Linked DNA regions of Homo sapiens: region 2 is linked to region 1. The links come from fine-mapping of genetic effects on gene expression. A gene starts in region 1. The other region holds a variant in brackets. All regions are shown on one strand. Distances are between the middles of the regions. Region 1 holds the start of ZFYVE16 (zinc finger FYVE-type containing 16). Region 2 overlaps FAM151B (family with sequence similarity 151 member B).

The links. PIP is the estimated chance that this variant, and not a neighbour inherited with it, causes the effect. A credible set is the group of variants that fine-mapping cannot tell apart.
Region 2: its variant is the best candidate, but not a certain one, in a credible set for the expression of ZFYVE16 in whole blood (TOPMed, PIP 0.59).

The regions. Positions count from the first base shown.
Region 1 is chr5:80,403,438-80,416,401 of GRCh38, reverse strand. ZFYVE16 (zinc finger FYVE-type containing 16) reads right to left here and starts at 8,338. Exons shown (of 19, transcript NM_001284236.3): 1 at 8,249-8,338. RefSeq lists a silencer at 7,738-7,857 and an enhancer at 7,578-8,376.
Region 2 is chr5:80,494,010-80,506,973 of GRCh38, reverse strand. It overlaps FAM151B (family with sequence similarity 151 member B), which reads right to left. Exons shown (of 6, transcript NM_205548.3): 2 at 5,057-5,182. It also overlaps the pseudogene RPS27AP9 and the pseudogene RPL7P24. Among named protein-coding and RNA genes, the nearest start is that of FAM151B, 12 kb to the right of the region's middle. RefSeq lists enhancers at 9,276-9,776, 12,864-12,964. The variant A/C (reference allele first, on the strand shown) is at 5,560.

The DNA.
Region 1 (12,964 bases):
TGCCTATAATCCCAGCTACTTGTGAGGCTGAGGCAGGAGAATCGCTTGAACCCAGGAGGCGGAGGTTGCAGTGAGCCGAGATCACGCCACTGCACTCCAGCCTGGGCAACAGAGCGAGACTTTGTCTCAAAAAAAAAAAAAAAAAAAAAAAAAATCTATGTATTCATACTGACGTAAGTAAATGATTGAATAAATAATTGGGGAAAAGACAAATCTCCCACGCAAAAAAATAAAAAAAAAATCCAAATAATTTATTTAGACTCTTTGCTCTCAAGGAAGTAGAACTCCCCATTCCTTAAGTGTGCAGCGCACAGTGACTTTCTAGTAAAGAATACAGAAAGGGAGAAAAAAAGAAAATACTAACTTCAAAGTGAAGAAACCTAACAAACACTACCTCAAGTCAAGTGATCAAGGTTAACATTAAAAGTGGCAAGTTGGCCGGGCGTGGTGGCTCTCGCCTGTAATCCCAGCACTTTGGGAGGCTGAGGCGGGCAGATCACAAGGTCAAGAGTTGGAGACCAGCCTAATCAACATGGCGAAACCCCGTCTCTACTAAAAATACAAAAATTAGCCGGGTGTGGTGGCACGTGCCTGTAATCCCAGCTACTCAAGAGGCTGAGGCAGGAGAATCGCTTGAACCCGGTAGGCAGAGGTTGCAGTGAGCTGAGATCGCACCACTGCACTCCAGCCTGGGTGATAGAGGGAGACTCCATCTCAAAAAAAAAAGAAAAGTGGCAAGTCACACTGACAGTATGTATTGATGAAAATTGTACTTTATCTCTGTTGTCTTTCTCTCCGAAACACATTACCCCAATATAATAACGAGAAAAACATGAGACAAATCTCAACTGACATTCTACAAAACACCTGAGCAGTAACCCTCAAAACTTTCAAGAGCATCAAAAACAAGGAATGTCTGAGAACTATCACAATCAAGAGGTGCCTAAGGAGACAGGACTACTCAATGTAATGTGGTATCCTGGATGGGATCCTGGAACAGAAAAAGCATATTAGAGGAAAAATGAGGAAATGCGAATAAAGTATAGCCTTTAGTTAATAAAGTATCAATACTAGTTCACTAATTATAACAAATGTACCATATTAATCTAAGATGTTAATAATAAACTGGGTGTGGAGTATATAGGAACTCTATACTGTCTGCAATAATTCTGTAAATCTAAAACTGTTCCAAAATAAAATGTTTATTTTTAAAAATGCAATCAAGGTGTTATAAAATAAAGTTGAGAAAATATCCTAGAAAACAGAACAGAAAGGGATAGAAAACAGGAGAGAAAATATTAGAAATTAGAGAATCAATCTAATGAGGTTTAATATTCTAATAAAAGAAGTCCAGAAAGAAGGAAGGGAGGGAAAGAAGAAACTGTCAAATAAACCACGGATATGGTCTCCAAATGGAAAGGGCCCATTTGGGGCCCAACACATGAATGAAAAACTCTTACCAACCAACATCATTGTGAAATTTCAGAACACCTGAATGGTTGAAGGGAGGATCACCCCATTTAATACTACAGTCTGCATCCCCTACCTCTCCTTTCCCCAACATTCCTGAACTTCCCACCCCAGCCTGCTCTTTTTTCTCTTTTCTAAAGCAGTTATTTACTTTACAAACTCCCAATGTTTTGTATAATTTATTTATTATATTTGCTGTTGAACAACTCCTCCCTCCCTGAATTTAAGCTCTATAAGGACATGAATCTTGTATTTTTGTTCACCTATATATTCAAAATGTCTTGACCAGTGCCCGGCACATAAAATGTGCTCAATACATACTTGCTGAATAAATATAAACGCTTCCAAAGAGATATAACAGGTCACAATCAAAGGATTGGTTATCATAAATGTGAGGGTTAAATAAAAAAATGGTTGACCATGCAAGAACCCAAAATATGTGCATCCCATTCTGTCTCTCTCAGGAAGCTACTCAAAAACATACTCTGCCAATATAAGGGAGACACCAAGAAAAAGGAAAACCTGAAATCCAAGAAAAAGAGGCTACCCACACAGAAGAGACAAATGCAATTCACAGATGACTGTAAAAGGGCAGTCCAGGAAGAGAGTTGTGCAACAGGCCTAGAGAGCAACCCATCAAGATGGAGGCAGGAAAGATGTCGCAAAACAGATTATCAGATGTGTTTGAATCTACTAAGAGGAGACTGATGTATCTGGTTCAAGAGATTAATAGATCAAATAAAGAATACAAAAGACACATTAAAAAGATATAAAACATTTATTTATAAAGAAATATAAAAGGTACATGTACAAAAGAATTAAGATATTAACTAGGAAAAACAAAAATTATACAAGAAAGGAAATAACCTCACACTTACCTTGTTCAGCTACATACAATATTTACATAGTTAAAATGAGGTAAACACCAAATAACTAAAAGTTAACATGTAACTAATTTGGGAATATAGAGGGGAGAGGGGAAGTGAAATGCAGTGTTTAAAGGTAGGAGTTGGTACAAAAAACCTAAACTCCCATCTTCTGTAATAGGAAATGAGTAAACTATACTTCAAATCGCATTAGGATGGGAATGGGGAGGGGATATCGCCATATATCTAAATATGTCATTTTAAAAAACTGGAAGTGATAAGGAATTGAAGTCACTGACTCTGGAGCAGCCTTTCTCAATTAAGGTTCGGCGAGAGAATTAATCTTTAATGCCCTAAGGCTTCCATTTTATGTAATAAACTAACTTCTCTCCTATGCATCCATCATATTATTAGCTACCTACCCTCTTTGGGAGAATTAAGAAAATAGTTGCTCAAATCATTTTTCTTGTTCAGTGATTCAGACAGAAAGCACTGATTGAGAAAGACTGCTTCTGGAGAGTGGGATTCAGGGGTGAGAAGGACTGGGGCAGAAGATTGTTGTTTTTCTCTTTTTTTTTTCTTTTTTTTTTTTTTGAGATGAAGTTTTGATCTTGTTGCCCAAGCTGGAGTGCAATATCGCGATCTCAGCTCACTGCAACCTCCGCCTCCCAGGTTCAAGCGATTCTCCTGCCTCAGCCTCCCAAGTAGCTGGGATTACAGGCATGCGCCACCATGCCTGGCTAATTTTGTATTTTTAGTAGAGATGGGGTTTCTCCATATTGGTCAGGCTGGTCTCGAACTCCCGACCTCAGGTGATCCTCCTGCCTCAGCCTCCCAAAGTGCTGGGATTACAGGCATGAGCCACCGCACCCAGCCCTCTCTTCTTTTTTGAGACAGGGTCTCACTCTGTTGCGCAAGTTGGACTGCAGTGGCACGATATTAGCTCACTATAGCCTCCACGTGCTGGGCTCAAGCGATCCTCCCACCTCAGCCTTCCAAGTAAATGGAACAACAGGTGTGTGCCCCACAACCCAGCTAATTTTGTTTATTTTTTGTGGAGACAAGGTCTCACTATGTTGCCCAGAATGGTCTCAAACTCCTGGGCTGATGTGATCCTCTTGCCTCAGCCTCCCAAAGTGCTGGGATTACAGGCGTGAGCCACCACACCCAGACAGTTTTTCATTATAATCCTTGAAGTACTATTTGACTGTTTATGTACAGGTATCCCTTCGATAAATATAAACATTAAATTTAAAATAAACATAATAGTAAAAAGTAGTAGTAACGGAACTCTGAATACAGGATGTATTTAACAAATTAAGCACAGAAACTGAAAGGTCTAGAAATAGTTTCTTATTAGCAAAAGCCAGAGAATTTTTTAGAAATAAATTATGGAATTCATTAAATAACATATATTTACAAAACATTCCTATCTATATAGCAATGCTCTACTAAGCATTATGTAATTTCAGGTGCCAAGAAAGATATAAAAAAAGATAATATAATTTGTAAAAGGTATGATATGACAATGTAAATACGGTATACTGAAATGTTTTAACATGAAATCTCATTAAGCTGTGTATATTTCCCATTTCAATCAATCAGTATGTACTTTTTGTGCCAATAATCTACCATATTCAGTATAAGACATAAAAGAAATATAAGATATACTCCCTTTTAAAATAGGTTTATTTATGTATACATATAACTTATTTTAGGTAGTATTTTTACTCACTTGGCTATTTATATATTTTTAAATTTAAGAAAAAATCTTCGTAATATTTACAATAAAATGGTTTTTAAAAATCTCTTCATGATTACAAAAATTGGCAGTAACATGGAAGATTAACCAGAAAACCAACAAAACCAACAGTAAGGAGACACCTAAAATGGTTAAGGTAAGAGATGAAGGCCTGAGCTGAGATAATGCAGTGGAGAAAAAAAGGAAATACATATAAAGGTGGCTAAAATGAGCCAGGCATGGTGATGCCCGCCTGTGGTCTCAGCTACTCCAGAGCCTGAGGTGGGAGGATTAGCTTGAGCCCAGGAATTTGAGACCAGCCTGGACAACAGAGTGAGATCCTGTCTCAAATAAAAATAATAAAATGAAATAAAAGTGGCAAAATAATGAGAAGTTTTGGAGACCGAAAGCAAGGGAGAAAGCTGGATTAGTGCCAGGTTTCCACCATGAGTGGCTAGGGTAGATGGTGGTGCCACTGACCATGACAGGCAATACAAAGAGGAGCAGGATTAAGGGAAAACATGAGTTCACGTTTGGACTGTTTGAAGTACCTTGAGAACATCCTGGGAGAGATATCCAAAAGGCAGCTGAATATAAGAATCTGGAATGCAGGAGAGAAGTCTGAGATAGATAAAGATTTGGGAACTGGCAACACACAGCTGTTAATGGATGAGATCACCTAGGAAGAGAATATATTTAGAAGAGGACAAGAGCCTGCCATCAGATAACTAAAGATCACAACTCATGTTCCTAAAACCACTCAGGATAAAACTTTGCCCAGTTATATGTACTTCAGTAGAAAAATATCCAATATATAATGTTAAATGAAAGAAAATCAAATCACAAAACTTTATGCATAGTGCAAACCTATTTTTACAAATAAGTTGTAAAAAAAATTAACAAATGCATAGTAAAAAAATATGAAGGAACAAACATTAATGATGTTAGTAATACTATAAATCTAGGAATGGGATTATGTAAGCCTTTCAGAGCTACATGATATGTCTTCATACTATTTTACTTTTTTTTTATAAGCATATACTTGGCCAGCGTGGTGGCTCATGCCTGTAATCCCAGCACTTTGGGAGGCTGAGGTGGGCAGATCACAAGGTCAAGAGATCGAGATCATCCTGGCCAACATGGTGAAACCCTGTCTCTACTAAAAATACAAAAAAAAAAAAAAAAAAAAATTAGCTGGGCGTGGTGGCACGTGCCTGTAGCCCCAGCTACTTGGGAGGCTAAAGCAGGAGAATCGCTTGAACCCCAGGAGGCGGAGGTTGCAGTGAGCCGAGATGGTGCCACTGCACTCCAGCCTGGCGACACAGCGAGACTCCATCTCAAAAAACTAAATCAATAAAAATAAAATAAATTTAAAAAAAAAAGGCATGTGCTCTTGTAAACCGAGAAAACATAATTTTGTTGTTTTCCTTTAAAAAAAAGTACAGCACGTTTCCTAAGGTCGGGTGAGGTGGCTCGTACCTGCAATCCCAGCACTTTGGGAGGCCGAGGCAGGCGGATCACAAGGTCAGGAGATCGAGACCATCCTGGCCAACATGGTGAAACCCTGTCTCTACTAAACTACAAAAATTAGCTGGGCATGGGGGCGCGTGCCTGTAGTCCCAGCTACTCAGGAGGCTGAGGCAGGAGAATCCCTTGAACCCGGGAGGCAGAGGTTACAGTGAGCCGAGATCACGCCACTGCACTCCAGCCTGGCGAAAGAGCGAGACTCTGTCTTAAAAAACAAACAAACAAAGTACAGCACGTTTCCTTACAATATATTTAAGAAGATAAAAATGTGTTAGAAAAACACTTGGATACTGGACTATAAACGAGCAAATAACATCAACAGACAACTAGTAAGATTATGAAAATTATTCAGTGCACTATCAAAGTAATGAGAATTAGAACATATACCATTTATTGCCTGCTAAATTGAAACAATTTTTTAAAATAATAAAAGTACTCGATGTTGGTAAGGGTGTGATTTTTTTTTTTAAAGCATGTCAGACACTGCTGACAGGAAACAAACTGGTACTATCTCCCATGAAAACAATGTGACAATATGTACCAATAGCCTGAGAAAGATTCCTAATATTTGATCTAACAATTATCTTTTTAGAAATTTTAGAAAAGAATCCATGTGTTAAAGCTCTCTTAAAATGTATCTGGCAGTTGTCTGGTTTTTACTGGACTCCCCCCAGCCCCCTCAAAAAGAAAATAATTCAAAACAACTAAAAACATGCAAAGATATTTCACCAAATCATTAGTTGAAACAATCTAAACACCAACATTAGTGCACAAAAGCAAATTATACAGGCATCAAAAGTAATGTGTTTAACAAACTTAAAAAAAAGCAAAACTCTATGACCTAGCAATTCTACTTACAGAAAAAACACTAGCACGCATACACCAGAAAACATCACAAAGAACTTTCACTGTTGCAAGGGTTGTAACAGTGTAAAATTTTAAACAACCTAACAGCCCACCAATCCAAAAATGGTTAAATCAGCTTTCTCAAACTGTGGTCTCAGGACCCCTGGATGTCCCCAGGAGCCTTTCAGCAGGCTTGTAAGATCCTCGCTTTTCCTGCTACGTATCTGTTCAAGGCTGGTGTTTTCTTCATATGCTTCAACCTAAACCAGATAGCACAACAGACTGAACAGAAGCAAACATGAAAATCCAGCTGTCTTCTATAATGCCAGACATTAAAGTGATTCGCAAAAATTTGAAACAATGCCACGCTCCTCTTCTAAGTTTTGTTTTAGAAAATGGTTACTTTTCACTAAAAAATTATTTAATACATGAGTCTGTGATTTTTAAATGAATAAAACATTTTCAATTTTCTGAGTTTTAATTTCCAAAATGGTAAATATACTGCAGCATTAGGAACCAAAAACTCTATTGGTCCTCAATAATTTTTAAGCGTAATTATCCCCAATCATAATGTTAAATGAACTGTAGCACTATTCTATCATGTAACATTATGATTGAGGATAATTAATGCGGATTTGGCTTTATCTGTAATATAACTGTTTCAAAAGATACTTTGCTCATGTATAATCAAGAAGTCATTTTTATGAAGCTTTTTAAAAACATGGGGAAATGCTTACAACGTAATTTAAATCAAGGAAAGCAGACAATCCAACGATATAAAATCTCATCTCAAGAAAATGCACAGGGGAAAAAAAGACTCAAAGGAAAAAAGTCAAAATATTATAAGTAATTGATTACTATTACATGGTGGAATTATGATTGATCATTTTTCCTTATTCTTTATTCTATTTTTTCAATTTTTGCCACTAAGCATGCGGTTTAATATCCAGGAGAGGAAAAAAAGGAAGAAATTAGGCGAAAAATTATATATAGTTCTACTGGATTAAACCATTAAACTCCCGCCAACTCAAGAGACGACAAGCTCAAGTGAATAAATGGAGGAATCTGATTGAATCAACAAAGTGCCTATTTTTTGAATTGAAAAGATTAACTTAATATCAAATGTATGGACTGGTTTTCATACAAGTCAAACTAATAAGAAAGAACATCCTTAGTCTGGAACATAATATTTGCAATCACGATAGTACAAATAAGAGTTAAAAATAAGGTCCTCTTTTGGAGTTCTCAAAAGTACCAAAGGAAAGGCAGCGGGAAAGACGGCCACTGCATCCTTCTGGTCTCTAACCAAGAGAAAATGCATGGGTGCGGGAATGGACAGTGCGAGAGCACCGGCGGCGATGAGACTCCTCTGCGGGGACCGAGCCTCTGCCACTCCTGAAGAACCACAGTCCCCTCCGCAGTCGCAGCCCCTCCCCAGGCGGGACGGCGGCGCCAGGGCGCTTCTCCCTCCGTCCGCTGGGGTCTCTCCCCCAGGAGCGCCGAACACTCCGGCGGCCCGGGAGCGGGGAACCGGGCAAACAGCCGCCGTGATTGCCCTCCCGGTCCAGTCCGGTCTGGCCCTTCAGGCTCCAGGAGGGGACATCAGATTGGAGGGCCAGGGTTCCCCGGCCAGCTCCGGGGGCTCGGAAAAGGAATCGGTCGGGGCCCAGGCTCTGTCCCCAGAGGAAGAGGGCCAGACCCAGCGCCCAGGTCGGCGGGTCCAGCGGTCACCCCGCCCCCCTGTGGGAACAGCAGGGCTGAGGGGAGGCCGAGACGACCGGTCACGGGGGGCTCTTACCTCCCTACAGCCCCTGCGGAGCTTTTTGGGAACTCGACACGACGTCGCGCTGAGGAGTGAAGAGCTACCCCGGCCGGGAGTCCTGGGAGTGCCAGATCCCGGCTCAGGGCTTCTTTCCCCGCCCCACCGGGCAGCGCAGAGAGCGCAGGCGCAGAGGACGCTTTCCTCTTCGGCTCACACGCCCCCTCCCTCGGCATCCGCGGCCGTCTCCAGGCCCGGGGCGCTTGCGCACTACGACGCAGGTTCCGAGCCAAGGGCACTAGATTTCTTACCGGAAGTGCCTGAGTGGGTTGTTGGGTGACGGGGACGCCTGATGATTCGACCTTAGGTCGGGACTCGGTTCTCCACTCGACTGCGGGATCGGGAGGCCACTCGCGTCAGTGTCTGACTTCCTTTACCCTTCGCTAACCTAGAGGCAGCTTCCCCGGCTCCAGCCTTAGCCCTTTGCTGAGCCTGCGCGGCGTTCCGGTCTCTACTGGACAGACCCGCCTTCCCGGCAGCGGGCTAGGCCTGCTCTCCGCGCTGCTGGCCCCTCGGAAAACATAACTTTTTGTTTACTTCAAACTGATTTTACAACACGCTGCCCCCCCGCCTCCCCCGCTTCCCCCGCTTCCCCTTCCTCCTCCCGGCAGCAATAAAAATGCTCCCAGCCAACGCCGAGCTCCAAGCCCCTCCAGCTGACTGGACATTCCCAGCCACACTTTCCTTCCCTTCGCTGCGTTAGTTCTGCATTTTTATTTTAAAGCAGCTGGTAGAACAGCTGTCTCCCTGTCTAAAAGCAAAAGCTGACTTATCTGATGTAGAAATAAAATGTCACTCACTTGATGTATATTTGCTTGTTGAGTTTTGCTATTTTTACCACAAGTTTCCTATAAATTTAAATGAGACCCGGCGCGGTGGCTCACGCCTGTCATCCCAGCACTTTGGGAGGCCGAGGCGGGAGGATCGCTTGAAGTCAAGAGTTCCAGACAGGCCTGGGCAACATAGCAAGACCCTGTCTCTACTAAAAATGAAAATGAAAAAATTAGCCAGGCGTGTTGGCGCGTGCCTGTAGTCCCAGCTACTGGCTGGGAGTCTGAAGTGGGAGGATCACTTAAGCCCAGGAGGTCAAGGCTGCAGTGAGCTCTGATGGCAACACTGCATTCCAGCCTGAGCAACAGAACCAGACCGTGTCTCTAAAAAAATAAAAAATAAAAACAAGGGAAGAGACATACATGTGGGATCAGATACAGACAGATACAGGGAAAAAGCAGTTCCTCAAAGGTTAAACAGCTCACAGTTCATACTGATCTTTCAAAAATCGCAAGAATTGGCCGGGCGCAGTGGCTCACGCCTGTAACCCCAGCACTTTGGGAGGCCGAGGCAGGCGGATCACCTGAAGTCAGGAGTTCGAGACCAATCTGGCCAACATGGTGAAACTCCGTCTCTACTAAAAATACAAAAATTAGCTGGGTGTGGTGGCGGGCGCCTGTAATCCCAGCTACTTGGGAGGCTGAGGCAGGACAATCAGGACCATTGAATGAACCCAGGAGGCAGAGGTCACAGTGAGCCAAGATCGAGCCACCACACTCCAGCCTGGGTGACAGAGCAAGGCTCCGTCTCAAAAAAGAAAAAAAAAAAATTGCAAGAATTATAATTTTTCGAGTATTCCAGCCACATGTGATTTGTGATGAAAGATTTGAGAATCAGGGTTCGCATCTTAAATCTGCAGTTTACAACTATAGTTCCTGATCTTTGAAAGATACTTAATCTTTAACCTTGGTTTTCCTAAACAACAAAATGAAATAGCCAAACTTTTGATTGCCTAAAGTAATGTGTGTATTGAGCATCTGCTTTGTGACAGTGTGTTAGATGCTTTGCTTACGTTATCTCATTTAATCCTAAGAATAATTCTACAAACTACAGTATGCCTTTTTCCTACTATGTGTTAGGCATTGTTCACAGATAAAATAAAATGGGGCCACTGCCCATGGGGAACCACAGTCTAGTAGCAGAGACTCACATATACAAATGCATACTGGGGACAGAAGTATTTATACGGTAAAGTGTGAGGGTAAAGAGAATAGAAAAAAGACACAAACACCTTAAATAGATCAATGGGGAAAGTATATACAATGGTCAGTTCACAAAATATGAAATTTAAATGCCTACTACACATTTTACCAATCAATATTCAAAGTCATTAATAATAAACAGAGACAAAAAAGAGGTTGTCTGGCATCTAATTACCCAATCTGTTTAAAATGTGAATAAACTCGATTGGTGACAGAAGAGTGAAGTGGACACTTATACCCTGGGAGGGATATAAATTGGGACAAAGATTTTGGAAAGTTATTTGTCAAATCATATCAAGAACCTTATGAGTGTTCACATGACCCAATTTGATCATTTCTCTTTTGGAAGTTATAAGAAGGTAGTCCAGAAGACGAAGATCTCTATGGAAAGATACTTAACCATAGTAAGTAAATTGATAAAAGTCGAAAATCCACCATTAAGAGAATGGTTAAAATAATTACTGCATGTATGTGATTAAAACTATTAAAATTATGTTTACAAAGAATTTTTAATGGCCTGAGGAAATTACCTCATGAAAAAACATTTTAAATATTTAAAAATATTTAACATTGCCTATGTAGTATGAGGTCAGCTATAGTATACAATGTATGTAAAAGAGTGAAGAAAGTATATCAAAATGTTGATAGTAGTCATGTCTATCTGATTAGAATGTAGATGTTATTATCCTGGACAGTCTACATTTTCTACAACATCTATATATTACCTTTATATTCTGGGGAAAAAGAAAAAAACCTCTAATGTAACAAGTGTGATAAGTTGACCAGGAAACCTAAGAATCCATTTCCCCTGTCATTTCAAGTATGGTCTTTAGAGTCTGATTACCTGAATTTGAATTCTAATTCTATAACCTATTAGTTGTGTGGCCTAAATTTTCTAAGCTTGATGCTCCTGTAGTCAAATGCTAATAGAACTAATACATTGATTGAGATAATCCACATAAAGTACTTAACTGAAGCACTGACTGTAAATGATGAATAACTGTTATTCTTTTTTTTTTCTTTTTTTGACAGGATCTTACTATATCACTCAGGCTGAAATGCAGTGGTTGGATCATGGCTCACTGCAGCCCCAACTCCTGGGGCCCAAGTGATCCTCCTACCTCAGCCTCCAGAGTAGCTGGGACCACAGGCGTGCATCACCATGCCCAGATAATTTTTATTTTTATTTTTTTAAAGACAAGGTTTCACTATGTTGCCTATACTGGTCTCAAACTTCTGGGCCCAAGCAATCCTCCCAATTAGAATTCAAATTCAGGTAATCAGGTAGTCAACCTCCCAAAGTGCTGGGATTACAGACATTAGCCACTGTGCCAGCCTAACAATTGCTATTCTTGATGGTTATATTTCTTTTTATAAATTGATCAGTTACATCCATGTTGTTATATCAGTAGCCTATGAATTTGGCTAATGCAAGTATAAGTTCCCTGGAGCACAATTACTTGCAAATACATTTTAAAACTGAATTTCTTAGTCTACTAAACTGAGAATAAGATACAGGGACTTGATGACCACTCCACATGTTTGTCACTATATGAAGACTCGTTTGCTCTGTTTTTGTTTCTGTTTTTGTTTTTTAAGGAGAATTAATAAGTTTGTTCATATAAAATTTGTAGCCTTTGATTACCTTTTAATGCCAAATGTCTACTAAAAATTTAATCTGCTAACAAAGCAATTGCAATACTTTTAGTAGATGTTTAGAATTATAATAACCTTTCCTAATTATGCTTTGAAAGAGTATTTAATTTGGGTTCCACAAAACTTCTGATCTATAAAGTAGTAAAAATAGATGAAATCAACCAACAAACCAAAGTTCAAATCAATGACTACTACTTTAGCCCAATAGTTCTCTGTGGAGGTGAGGGGTGATTTTGCCTCCCAGAGGACGTTTGACAATCTCTGGAGGCATTTTTGGTTGTCACCACTGAAAGAATGCTACTGATATCTAATAGATACAGGCCAGGGATGCCGCTAACTGTCTTGCAATTCACAGGAGAACCCCCAACAACAAAGAAGTTTTCAGCCTAAAATATCAACAGTGCCAAGGTTGAGAAACCCTGATTTAGCCAGTGAGTGGTTTAAAGCTAGTATATTTCTTCCAATTCCTAGTAAACAGTTCCTTTTTTTTTTTTTTTTCTGATGACCACAGCGGCACAAATGTGAGTTCAGAAATTCAGAACTGGGTTTTGAACTTCTACATAAGGCCCTATACCAATGAAAATTAAACTTTGTACCAAGTAGTACCCAAAGTTAACTAGATTAGAGATAAAAAATCTACAATGACCAGTTTTATGGAGCAGACAGCTGGTCAGTTGTACTCTGGCACAGAAAAATGCTCCATTCCTATTGTTCAGTTGCACCAGACACACGTATCATCACTTATTACTAAGAACCACTTTATAAATAGCTGTCATTTATTGATCACCTACTGTTTTCAGCCTTTATCTTATAAGTAAACCAGGTGTTCTCGCAGTATGAACATTGTTGCTCATCCATAAACAAAACCTGAAGTTCAGGATTTCTCCCTGCTGTTATAACTACTTTGTTAAGTACAGGCTGTTATAACTACTTTGTTAAGTACAGCAACACTTACTGGTCAAGGCCTTTATCAAAACAGCAAACTGAAGAACACACTCTCAACAGC
Region 2 (12,964 bases), 91 kb before region 1:
CTAATTTTTGTATTTTTAGTAGAGACGGAGGTTCACCATGTTGGCCAGGCTGGTCTCGACCTCCCAAAGTGCTGGGAGTACAGGCGTGAGCCACCTTGCTTGGCCTAGTGCATTTGATAGATTAGCTCCACCCAGTCAAGAACTACAAATCAAAACAATCTCTCAACCTCTATGAGAGAAATAAACAGTGAGGCAAGAGGTCAAAGCCTTTAGGGAAAAAAATCTCTCCTCTTGGAAACCAGAGCAGTAGAACCAAACATGTTTCTATCTAGCAATTATATTAAAGATTTTAAATGGAACACCATTTGAGACCAATAAAGAGGCTTGATTTATGTTTAAATATACCACTTTGGATGCTGGGTGGAAAATAAAATAGACAGGGGCAAGTGTGGAAGCAGGGAAAATAATCTATCCAATTAGGATGGACTCATAGATCTACTGGATGCTTCTGGCGGCAAATAAATAGAAATTCAGATTCAAGCTAGTAGATTTATCATCTCAAATAACTAAAAGTCCAGGGGTCAGGTGAGCTTTAAGTGTGGTACAATCAGCAGCTCAGTGATGTTATTGTGATCTTTATGTCTCTTTTCTTCACTGTCCTTGGTGTCGTCTTCATCGTAAGGCTAATTTCATCTCATGATTTTAAGACAGCTACCAATAATCACTAGGGCTACATATTTTCATGTTCACATACTTCAATTTTAAGATATAAAACTTCTTTGGTAATTATAATTACTTTACTTGAGTCTAATTGAGCCCAGTTTGATCACTTGCCCACCATGGGAGCAATATGAATCATCAGGAAAACTTCAAGTGCTGATTAACTTATTGTAATGCACCCCTGGAGCTACAAATGGAACCAGTTTCCATATGCTTGTATGGAGCAGAAATGGATACCTTAATAAAAGTAAAGTTCTTGGCCGGGCGTGGTGGCTCACACCTGTAATCCCAGCACTTCGCGAGGCCAAGGCAGGCGGATCATGAGGTCAGGAGTTCGAGACCAGTCTGGCCAACACGGTGAAATCTCGTCTCTACAAAAAATACAAAAAATTAGCCGGGTGTGGTGGTGTGAGCCTGTAATCCCAGCTACTCGGGAGGCTGAAGCAGGAGAATCACGTGAATACAGGAGGCAGAGGTTGCAGTGAGCCGAGATTGTGCCATTTCCCTCCAGCCCAGATGACAGTGCGAGACTCTGTCTCAAAAAAAAAAAAAAAAAAAAAAAAATTCTTATAGGAAGAAAGAAAAGGGGACTGGTGATGTAGTAAGAACTCAATGGATGTGGCTGGGTGCGGTGGCTCACGCCTGTAATCCCAGCAAGTTAGGAGGCCGAGGCGGGCAGATCACGAGGTCAGGAGATCGAGACCATCCTGGCTAACACAGTGAAACCCCGTCTCTACTAAAAATACAAAAAATTAGCCAGGCGTGATGGCGGGTGCCTGCAGTCCCAGCTACTTGGGAGGCTGAGGCAGGAGAATGGTGTGAACCCAGGAGGCGGAGCTTGCAGTGAGCCGAGATCGTGCCACTGCACTCCAGCCTGGGTGACAGAGTGAGACTCTGTCTCAAAAAAGAAAAAAAAAAAGAACTCAATGGATGTTTGCTATGTCTCTCTTCTCTAAGCTATACCATATTTAGGATCTTTTAATTACAGTGAGGCAAAGCATAAAATAACAAAATGGCTGGGTGTGGTGCTCACACCTGTAATCCCAGCACTTTGGGAGGCTGAGGCAGGAGGACTGCTTGCAGCCAGGAGTTTGGGACCAGACTCTCTACAAAAAATAAAAATAAAGAAATAAACACCAAAACACCAAGACCAATCAAAGAGTTTTATACTCCTTTTATTCTCTATCAAATGCAATTCTAAGCAATGTCCAGGTACTATCCAAACAGCTTCCAGCCCTCTGCCAAAGGTGGAATTCTTCAACCATGTGAATAGTGCTGAGTCCTGATGTTTGTGTGGCTTATCTCGCCAGGGGGAGGGCAGATACAGAGAAGTTGTTCTTTCACCCTATGGCCAAACTTCTGCAAGGACAACAGGGCAAGTGAATTTGCAGAAAGATAGATGATCTAGTCTTTTATTATTTTCCCAGGATGAAGTTGGGGAAGGGGGTTGTAGGTCTCCTTTATCAGTGTGGTTATAAAGGGGCACAAAAGCTTGGAATCTTTCATTTAAGAGTGATAGTCTAATCCCAGCACTTTGGGAGGCCAAGGAGGGCAGATCAGGAGATCAGGAGATGGAGACCATCCTAGCCAACATGGTGAAACCCCATCTCTACTAAAAATACAAAAATTAGCTGGGCATGGTGGCACATGCCCATAGTCCCAGCTACTCAGAGGCTGAGGCAGGAGGATGGCTTGAACCCGGGAGGCAGAGGTTGCAGTGAGCATAGATCGTGCCACTGCACTCCAGCCTGGCGACAGATCAAGACTCCATCTCAAAAAAAAAAAAAAAAAAAAAAAAAGAGTAATAGTCGCAGTCTGCTAATTCCATTATTTCCAATAGATAGAAAAAAAATCAGTAAATGGGCAAGTTGAGGAGTCTCTGGGCCCATGTAAAGTATGTTCCTAAGGTCTCCTACATGAAAAAAAAGGGGGAACTACAGCAGTATGAGCAAGAAATCCTGGTGGCTTCTAGGATAATGATAAGAAAGATGGAAAGAAAGATGTGGACTAATTCAAAATGTATTTTGGAATAGAATCATAATGATTGGATATTAGATACAAGAATAAAGAAAGGAGCGAAAAAATGACTCCTAGATTTCTGGTTGAAACATCTAAGTAGATTGTGGTGCCATTTCCTGAGACAAGAAAGATCACAGGAAGTGCAGGTTAGTAAATATAGTCAAGAATCTCATTTCGGATAACGTAAATTTGAGACGCATGAGAGATCTCTAAGTGGAAACATCAATAAGCAGTTGGATGGACTAATATTAACAGTCCTAACAAGAGAGGGAGACCTGGCCTGGAGACACAGAAGATACAGAAGCTGCCCAGCCCCTCTCCCTAGTCTTCCATCCATAGCCTGTGGGTAGAAGACTTTTAAAAGTCAGGGCACACTTCTGCTTGGGAGACTGCATGGTTCTAATAGTCTCATATAACAGGGACAGCAAGAGGAGGAAGTCTGTATATCAAGGCATACGTTGCCTCACCCACAGGAGCTCCAGCTTGTGACCATGGCCAGACTTTGCCTTGCTTCATCAACTCCTGTTCAGCATAGCAAAAGTAACTTTTCACCATCCCCAGGCTATGATGGCAAAAGGGCTTTGTATATACTATTATTATACAAATTGTAAAATTTTTTAAGTTGTATTTCTAGATTTTCAGTTATTAGAAAAAAACAGAATTTATTTTCTATTTTGACCTTGAATCCTGAGATTTTCTTTTCTTTGCTTTCTTTCTTTTTTTTTGAGACAAGGTCCTCACTCTGTCACCTAGGTTGGAGTGCAATGGTGCAATCACAGCTCACTGCAGCCTCCAGCTCTTGGGCTCAATCGATCCTCCTGACTCAGCTTCCTGAGTAGCTGTGACTACAGGTACATGCCACCATGCCCGGCTAATTTTTCTATTTTTTGTAGAGACAGGGTCTCACTATGTTGCCTAAGCTGATCTTCAACTCCTGGGGTCAAATGATCCACCCAACTTGGCTTCCCAAAGTGCTGGGATTACAGGCATGAGCCACCGCCCTGACCACATCCTGAGATTTTCTAAGTTCACCTATTTATTATGATCATTTATCTATAGAATCTTTTTTGTTTTCTATAAACACAATCATACTGTCTGTGAATAAAGGTTTTATTTCTTCCTTTCCTATCATTTTTTTCATTTTTAAAAACTGAGACATAATTTACATACTATAAAATTCACCCTTTTAAAGTGAACCCTTTAGTGGTTTTTATTTAGCGTATTCAGAAGGTTATGTAACTATAACCACTCTCTAATTCTAGAAAAATTTCATCATCCAAAAAAGAAACCCTGTACTCATTAGCATTGACTCCTTACAGTTCCTGACAATCATTAAGCAACCATTTCCTGAGGCATCAATTTTGCTAAAATTCATTTACTAAATAATCACTGTGTAGTTATTATATGCTACGCACTGTTTCAGGCATTAAGGATTCAACATGAAACAAGACAAAATTCTTCCTTTTGAGGAGAAAAATACAATTTAAAACAGTGTTTTGACAATAAAAGAAGCTGAGATATATAATGAATTAGGATGCAAAAATGCATACACTTTTATAATAAAATATGGAATTTCAAGGTAATTTCTTGTTGGACCAGATACTGCAAGCTCTGCCCCGGCCCTGTAGTGATATGCTTTCTTTCTCCTTTCCTGCTGCAGCCAACATGAGCACTTTATAGGAAAAGGCTGAGAAACACTGCTATAATGTTCATCTGTATAATGAAGGGATATACATACAATGATTACAGGTTGAATCAGTAAACCAAAGACTTGATTTCTAGCTTAGGCATAAATATTGCCCAATTATTTATTAATTATAAATTGGTATACAATGCCTTCATCCATCCATTGAACAAATATTGAGTGGGTTTCTCATTAGTACATGATGAAAGACATAAAAATATGTAAGATACATGGTCCTGATCTTAAAAGTTTTACTCAAATCACTACATACATAAGAAAATATAATAATATATGAGAGTTTCGAATCAGACATAACAGGCAAATTGCTTCTAGAAAATAAGAAAATTCTTTCATTATGCAATTTGTCCATTTTGTAAACAAAATGAAACACTTTATAAAAATGTTCAGCCTGGTGTGATGGCTCACAGATTACCTGAGCCCAGGAGTTTGAGCCTGCAATGAGCTGTGATTACACCTTTGTTTTCCAGCCTGGGCAACAGAGAGAGACTATGTCTCTAAAAATGAATAAATAATAATTAAATAATAAATAAAAATAAATAAAATACTCATGTCAGCCTGGAACTTACACTTGGATCACCTGTCTCTAGTATCTGCAAATATACCTAGATATCAAAAAAGGAGTTGAATTAATCTATTATCCAAAGTAAATTACAAGTAACTGTACTGACTTACTTTTCAGTGCCTCATTTGTTTGTGCCTTGTGGTTAGCTGCATGATACCAGGTGATCTCAGCACCGTCTTCTGCTGTAATCTGGCTATTTCTCAGAAAATATTCCAGTATATTTTCACTCCAAGATCCTAAAATAACAGTGTTTACATGAAAAGTGATATTGTTTTTTATAGGGTAAAATTTTTAAAATCACTTTCATTGTGTATATTTAAGATACACATATGCTGTTATGTGATATATATATATAGATAGATAGATAGATAGTAAAAAGGTTACTATAATGAAGCAAATTAACATATCCATCATCTCACATATCTGTTTTCTCTGTGTGGCAAGAACAGCTAAAATCTCATTTAACACGAATCCCTTATATACAGTACAATTTTATTACCTGGAGTCCTCATGTTGCACATTAGATCTTGACTTGTTCATCTTTTTTTTTTTTTTTTTTTTTCAATTTGAGAGCAGGTACTGTTTACTAACTGACCAGCTTAGAAAAATAATC[A/C]TGGTAGACATCTTATTTCATTCTTCTAGTAAGCCTGTTGATCTGGTCCTCCCTGTTGCCAGCATCTCCACCTTCTACAAAATGGGTGGTCTCTCGGCCGGGCGCGGTGGCTCACGCCTGTAATCCCAGCACTTTGGGAGGCTGAGGTGGGCGGATTACCTGAGGTCAGGAGTTGGAGAGCAGCCTGGCCAACATGGTGGAACCCTGTCTCTAACAAAAATAAAAAAAAAAAAATTAGCCAGGTGTGGTGGCACACGCCTGTAATCCCAGTTACTCCAGAGGCTGAGACAGGAGAATCGCTTGAACATGGGAGGCAGAGGTTGCAGTGAGCTGAGATCATGCCACTGCACTCCAGCCTGGGTGACAGAGTGAGACTCTGTCTCAAAAATAAAATAAAATAAAATAAAAATGGATGGTCTTTTTCTTCATTCCGCCTCATGGCGAAGATAATTTGAAGGGCCACAGCAAGTTATTTGCTTCTTTGAAGTGTTTTCCAACAGTATAGATCTCATGAATCAGATCCTCCATGCAGAGGATGCCATATTTACCAAGAGATGGAACAATCAAAGTGTTATCTGTTAAAGCAATTCGCTTCTTATTGATTTTGCCATAACCACGCTTGTAGATTAGTTCATTTACTGACTTCAGATTTGGGTACCCCCATGCTATATATGGCTCTACAATCCTCAGCATGTTAACTGAAGCCTGTTGAGCTTCACAAAGGTTCCACTGAAGATTTGATGAAGGCGAAGAAGCTGCAACACCTTTCGGACCTTTGGGCTCACACCACTGACACCTCTGATCCTGAGGACAAATGCCATTTTGGGTTCTGCAGGTACACAGAAGTTGCCAGCTTTTCTCGCCATCCTTGCCATTCAAAATTCAGTTCTGTATATCTGCCTATATTCCTTGTGACAGTGTTTTGCTTTTTCACAGATAAGCTTCCTCCTTGCCTTTCAAAGCATCTTTTGGGTAAACTTCTTTCTCAGGCACTTGATCTTCAGCTCTGCGAAATTCCCTTGCTTTTTCTTAAGGGTTTCTGGCACAGCAGGAACCTTCTCTTTCTCTTCTACACCCTCCATGGTTCCAGCCGGAAAAAGAGGCAACTTGCTCATCTTATATATCTGTTCTGTATGCTCTAACCTACATCTCCCCATTTCCTTTGCTTCCCCCTCCCCATAGCCATTGTTTTGTCATCTATTTCTGTTATATTTGATTTTTTTTTATTCCACATATAAGTGAGATCATACACTATTTTTCTTTCTGTGTCTGGCTTATTTCACTTAGCATAATGTCCTCCGGGCTCATCCATGATGTGGAAAATGGTAAGTTCTCATTCTTCTTTAGGGCTGAATAATATTCCATTTTATCTATGTACCACAGTTTGTTTATTCATTCATCTATCAACAAACACTTGTTGCTTCCATACCTTGGCCACTGTAAATAATGCTGCAATGAACATGGGAGTGCAGATATCTTTACAAAGTGGTGATTTCATTTCCTTTGGGTATGTGCCCGGAAAAGGGATTGCTGAGTTATAGAGTAAAAAAAAAAAAAAAAATTAACAAAGAACAGACAAGATATTGAGGGATAATAACAAAATAGTTAGGCTGGGAAAAATATAAGATTTTAAAAACAGAGAACAAGTATTATGATGTGGCAAGTATATAATATATATAAACATGTTATATATTATATAATGTAATAATTAGTAGACATATAGGATAGTCTGAACATCAGAAGCATAAGAATGCAGGAAGAAAACAAAACTAAAGCAGATATTTAAAAGCTGGAAATTTCATATGATGTTCTCTACAATGCTGGTCCAGAAATATAAGGAAAACTGATGTAAAGCCAAAGCTATATTTAAAATTCTAAGTTTTACACACTTAATTGTTTTCTCTACCTGAAACCCCATTCTATATTTATATTAACAATTTAATATTTAAATTGCATATCTTACTGCATATCTACCTTCAGATTATTCTCAGCAACATCTATATGAGTGAGCAAGTAATCTCTTGAATTAGCATTCATAAGTTTATCTAGCGTGTGCAATATACATAATTCTCATATCTTTCAACTACTTTTTGGTATAACATATTTTCTCTTGATTAAGCATTAAAACTTGTGAGTTAACCAAGACTAAGGTAAGTGGTAGCAAAAATATCTGAACCCAGATCTATTCCATACTATATCATAACATAAAAGAAGAAAATGCTGAAAAAAAGTTGTCCATAATTTTACCTCCCTAATCCTTGTTCATGCTTCAAACATTTATTAAGAGCCTAGCAAGTGCCTGCAAATTCCCCACGCATGAGATTCTTTCCTCTGTTAATTATTTGTTTGTTAACTCTGCCTAACTACAGTTAAAAACCTAAAACTACTTTTTTTTTTTTTTCCATCTGCCATCTGTGGTGGAGCTGCCACCAAAATGCAGATTTCGTAAAAACCCTTCCGGGGAAGACCACTACCCTCAAGGTTGAACCCTCGGACACAATAGAAAAGGTAAAGGCCAAAATCCAGGAATTCCTCCTGATCAGCAAAGACGGATCTCTGCTGGCAAGCAACTGGAAAATGGAGGTACTCTGTCTGACTACAACATTCAAAAGGAGTCTACTCTTCATCTTGGGTTGAGACTTTGTGGTGGTGCTAAGAAAAGGAAGAAGTCTTACACCACTCCCAAGAATAATAAACACAAGAGAAAGAAGATGAAGCTGGCTGTCCTGAAATACTATAAGGTGGAAGAGAATGGCAAAATTAGACACCTTTGTCGAGAGTGCCATTCAGATGGTGCTGGAGTGTTTATGGCAAGCTACTTTGACAGACATTATTGTGGCAAATGTTGTCTGACTTACTGCTTCAACAAACCAGAAGACAAGTAATTGTCTATGAGTTAATAAAAGACATGAGCTAACATCTTTTTTAAAAGCCCCCCAAAAAACCAAAAACCTTAAACCTAAAAATGGCTATCGGAAACTGCTGATAAGATATCAGAGAATGGAGGGGCATATAAAGACAAATTCTAACTAACATACATGGGACTTAGCAGTCACTTCTAACGCTGGGCTGCAGAATTTAAAAAAAAAAGGACAGTTAGGTGGAGGATCCACTATCCCCAAAGCAGTCTCTCACTGAAAACACGTGGCCCTATTTGGCATATATAATAGAGTCATAGACCTTTCATACTGAGATGGCAACACATGGCCATCATTCTTTAAAATATTAAGGTAGCCATTTTAGAAGGCACATTATTGATTGGCTATAACAAATGTCCAACAATAGGAAAATAATTAAATCACAGTACATATGCATGATAGAATATGTGACTAACGTGGCTGTTAAAAATGAAGGTTTTGAGATACACCAAATGATTTAGAGGACTGATAAGCATTACATTACCAGAAAAACCTAAATGTTGGTTAATGGTTCATATTGGATATTTCCACAGCACTTTTTATTTATTTATTTATTTTTTATTTAAGTTCTAGGGTACATGTGCACAACGTGCAGGTTTGTTACATATGTATACATGTGCCATGTTGGTGTGCTGCACCCATTAACTCGTCATTTACATTAGGTATATCTCCTCATGCTATCCCTCCCCCCTCCCCCTACCCCACGACAGGCCCTGGTGTGTGATGTTCCCCTTCCTTCCACAGCACTTTTCAACTAAACATACTGCATTCAGAATTTTTATAAAGGCAACTTACAGAGTAATAATAAAATACCAGGACTCTAGAATTTAAAAAAATTTAAAGTAAGAAGTTTTCCTTACCCTTTTACTAAGTGAAATTGTTAGTTTGTATTTAAGCCACGACTGTATATATCTTAAAACTTACAGAGGATCCAATTACCTATGATCTAAGGTCTTAGTATTATTATTTAAACAGGCTGTAACTCTGAAAACAGGGCCAAGAGAAAGGCAAAAATAGTTGTAACTTTTTTAAGATTGAGTTTTTGAGTAGTTTTTTTATTGTTTTTGTTTTTTTTTTTTTTTGAGCCGGAGTCTTGCTCTGTCACTCAGGCTGGAGTGCAGGGGCATGATCTCAGCTCACTGCAATCTCCGCCTCCTGTGTTCAAGCAATTCTTATGCTTCAGCCTTCTGAGCAGCTGAGATTACCATCACATCGGCTGCTTTTTGTATTTTTAGTAGAAATGGTGTTTCACCATGTTGGCCAGGTTGTTCTCAAACTCCTGGCCTCAAGCAATCTGCTGCCCTTGGCCTCCCAAAGTGCTGAGATTATAGGCGTGAGCCACCGTGCCTGGCCTTTTGAGCAGTTTTCATTTACAGAAAAAAATTAGGCTGGGCATGGTGGCTCACGCCTGTAATCCCAGCACTTTGGGAGGTCGAGGTGGGCAGATCATCTGAGGTCAGGAGTTCGAGACCAGCCTGGCCAATATGTTGAAACCCCTTCTCTACTAGAAATACAAAAATTAGCTGGGTGTGGTGGCTCACGTCTGTAGTCCCAGCTACTCAGGAGTCTGAGGCAGGGAAATAGCTCGAACCCAGGAGGTAGAGGTTGCAGTGAGCCAAGATCACACCACTGCACTCCGGCTTGGGTGACAGAGCAAGACTCCGTCTCAAAAAAAAAAAAAAAAAAAAAAAAAAAAATTAAGCAAAAAGAGCAAAGTTCCCATATCATCCCCACTCTTCCCTCGATTTCCCTGGTTTTGGCTGTTTTGGTAATTTAAAAATTGCTTTTATTTAAAGCTCCCCAATTTTTAACATCTTGCATTAGTGTGGTATGTCTGTTAGAATAGATGAGCCAATACTGACATTTTGTTAACTAAAGTCCATAGTTTACATTAGAATTCACTCTTGGTATCATACATTTTATAGGTTTTGACAGATGTCTAGGTGTACATCTGAGATAGAAGGTTCAGTTATGGGCCACTGGAATAAAGTGAGTATCACAATAAAGCAAGTCACACAATTTTTGGTTTCCCAGTACATATAAAAGTTATGTTTACACTGTTATACTGTAGCCTATTAGTTGTACAATAGCATTATGTCTAAAAAAATGTGCATACCTTAATTTTAAAATACTTTATTGCTAAAAAGTGTTAACAATCATCTGAGCCTTCCGCTAGCTGTAATCTTTTAACTGGTAGAGGGTCTTGCCTCAATGTTGATGGCTATTGACCAATCAGGGTGGTGGTTGCTGAAGGCTGTGGTGGCTGTGACAATTTCTTACAATAAGGCAATGAAGTTATCGACATCAGTGGATTCTTCCTTTCATGAAAGATCTCTCTGTGGCACACAATGCTGTTTGATAGCATTTTACCCACAGGAGAACTTTCAAAATGAGAGTCAATTCTCTCAAACTCTGCTGCTGTTTTAACAACTAAGTGTATGTAATATTCTTTATCATCTGTGGTCATTTCAACAATGTTCACAGCATCTTCACCAGAAGTAGATTACATCTCAAGAAAATACTGTCTTTGCTCATACATAAGAAGGAACTCCTAGTTCATTAAAGTCTTATCATAAAATTGCGATAATGTAGTCACATCTTCAGGCTCCATTCTAATTCTAGTTCTCTTACTAGTTCTTTTTTTTTTTTTTTTTTTTTTTTTTTTTGAGACGGAGTCTCGCTCTTTCGCCCAGGCTGGAGTGCAGTGTGGCGCATCTCGGCTTACCGCAAGCTCTGCCTCCTGGGTTCATGCCATTCTCCTGCCTCAGCCACCCGAGTGGCTGGGACTACAGGCGTCCGCCACCACGCCCGGCTAATTTTTTGCATTTTTAGTAGAGACGGGGTTTCACTGTGTTAGCCAGGATGGTCTCAATCTCCTGACCTCATGATCCGCCTGCCTCAGCCTCCCAAAGTGCTGGGATTATAGGCATGAGCCGCTGCGCCCTGCCCTCTTTTGCTATTTCTATCACATTTGCAGTTACATCCTCTATTGAAGTATTGCATCCCTCAAAGTCACCCATGAGAGCTGGAATCAACTTCTTCCAAACTCCTGTTAATGTTGATATTTTTACCTTCTCCCATTAATCACAAATCTTCTTGATGGAATCTAGGATGATGACTCTTTGCCCACATCCATCAGAGGAATCACTATCTATGGCAGCTATAGATTTACAAAACATTTCTCAAATAATAAGACTTGTAAGTCAAGATTACCCTTTGATCCACGGGCTGCAGAATAGATGCAAGCATGCAGGAAAACAGCATCAATCTCTTTGCACATCTCCATCAGAGCTCTTGGGTGACCAGGTGCCTTGTCAATCAACAGTAATATCTTGAAAGAAATATTTTTTTTCCTGAGCAGCAGGTCCCCACAGTGGGCTTAAAATATTCTGTAAATCATGCTGTAAACAGACGTGCTGTCATCCAGGCTTTGTTGTTACGTTTCTAGAGCACAGGCAGAGAAGTAGATGTAGCATAATTCCTAAGGACCCTGTGATTTTCAGTATAGTAATGAGCACTGGCTTCCACTTAAAGTCACCAGCTGCATTAGCCCTAACAAGAAAGTCAGCCTGTCTTTTGAAGATTTTAAGCCAAATATTGGCTTTTCCCCTCTAGCAATGAAAGTTCTAATGGCATCTTCTTACAATAGAAGGCTGTTTTATTTACACTGACAATCTATTGTTGGCCCTGCACAGTGGCTCATGCTTGTAGTCCCAGCACTTTGGGAGGCTGAGGTGGGAGGATCACTTGAGCCCAGGAGTTCGAGACCAGCTGGGGCAACATGACGAAATCCCGTCTCTACAAAAAAATACAAAAATTAGTAGGCCGTGGTGGTGTGTGCCTATAGTTCCAGCTACTTGGGGGGCTGAGGTGGGAGGATCGATTGAACCCAGGAGGTCCAGGCTGCAATTAGCCACGATCATGCCACTGCCCTCCAGCCTGTGTTACAGAGGGAGACCCTGTCTTAAAAAAGAAAGAAAGAAAGAAAGAAAGAAAGAAAGAAAGAAAGAAAGAAAGAAAGAAAGAAAGAAAGAAAGAAAAGAAAGAAAGAAAAAGAAAGAAAGACAGAAAGAAAGAAAATCTGCTGTTAGTGCAGCTACTTTCATCAATGATCTTAACTAGATCTTCTGGATCACTTGCTGTAGCTTCTCCATTAGCACCTGCTGCTTCACCTTGAAATTTTTTGTTGTAGAAACAGCCTTTTCCCTTAAACCTCATGAATCAACCTCTGAGAATCTCCAGCTTTTCTTCTGTAGCTTCTGCACTTCTCACAGTCTTCATAAAATTGATGAGAGTTAGGGCCTTACTCTGGATTAGGCTTTGGCTTAAGGGAATGTTGTGGCTGGTTTGATCTATCCAGACCACTCAAACTTTCTCCATATATCGGGGGAACCAGCCCCCAATATTTCAACGTACGTTCTTTTCTATTTTCCCTAAGTGTCAGCTGGTCTGAGAAATAAAGAGAAAGAGTACAAAGAGAGAAATTT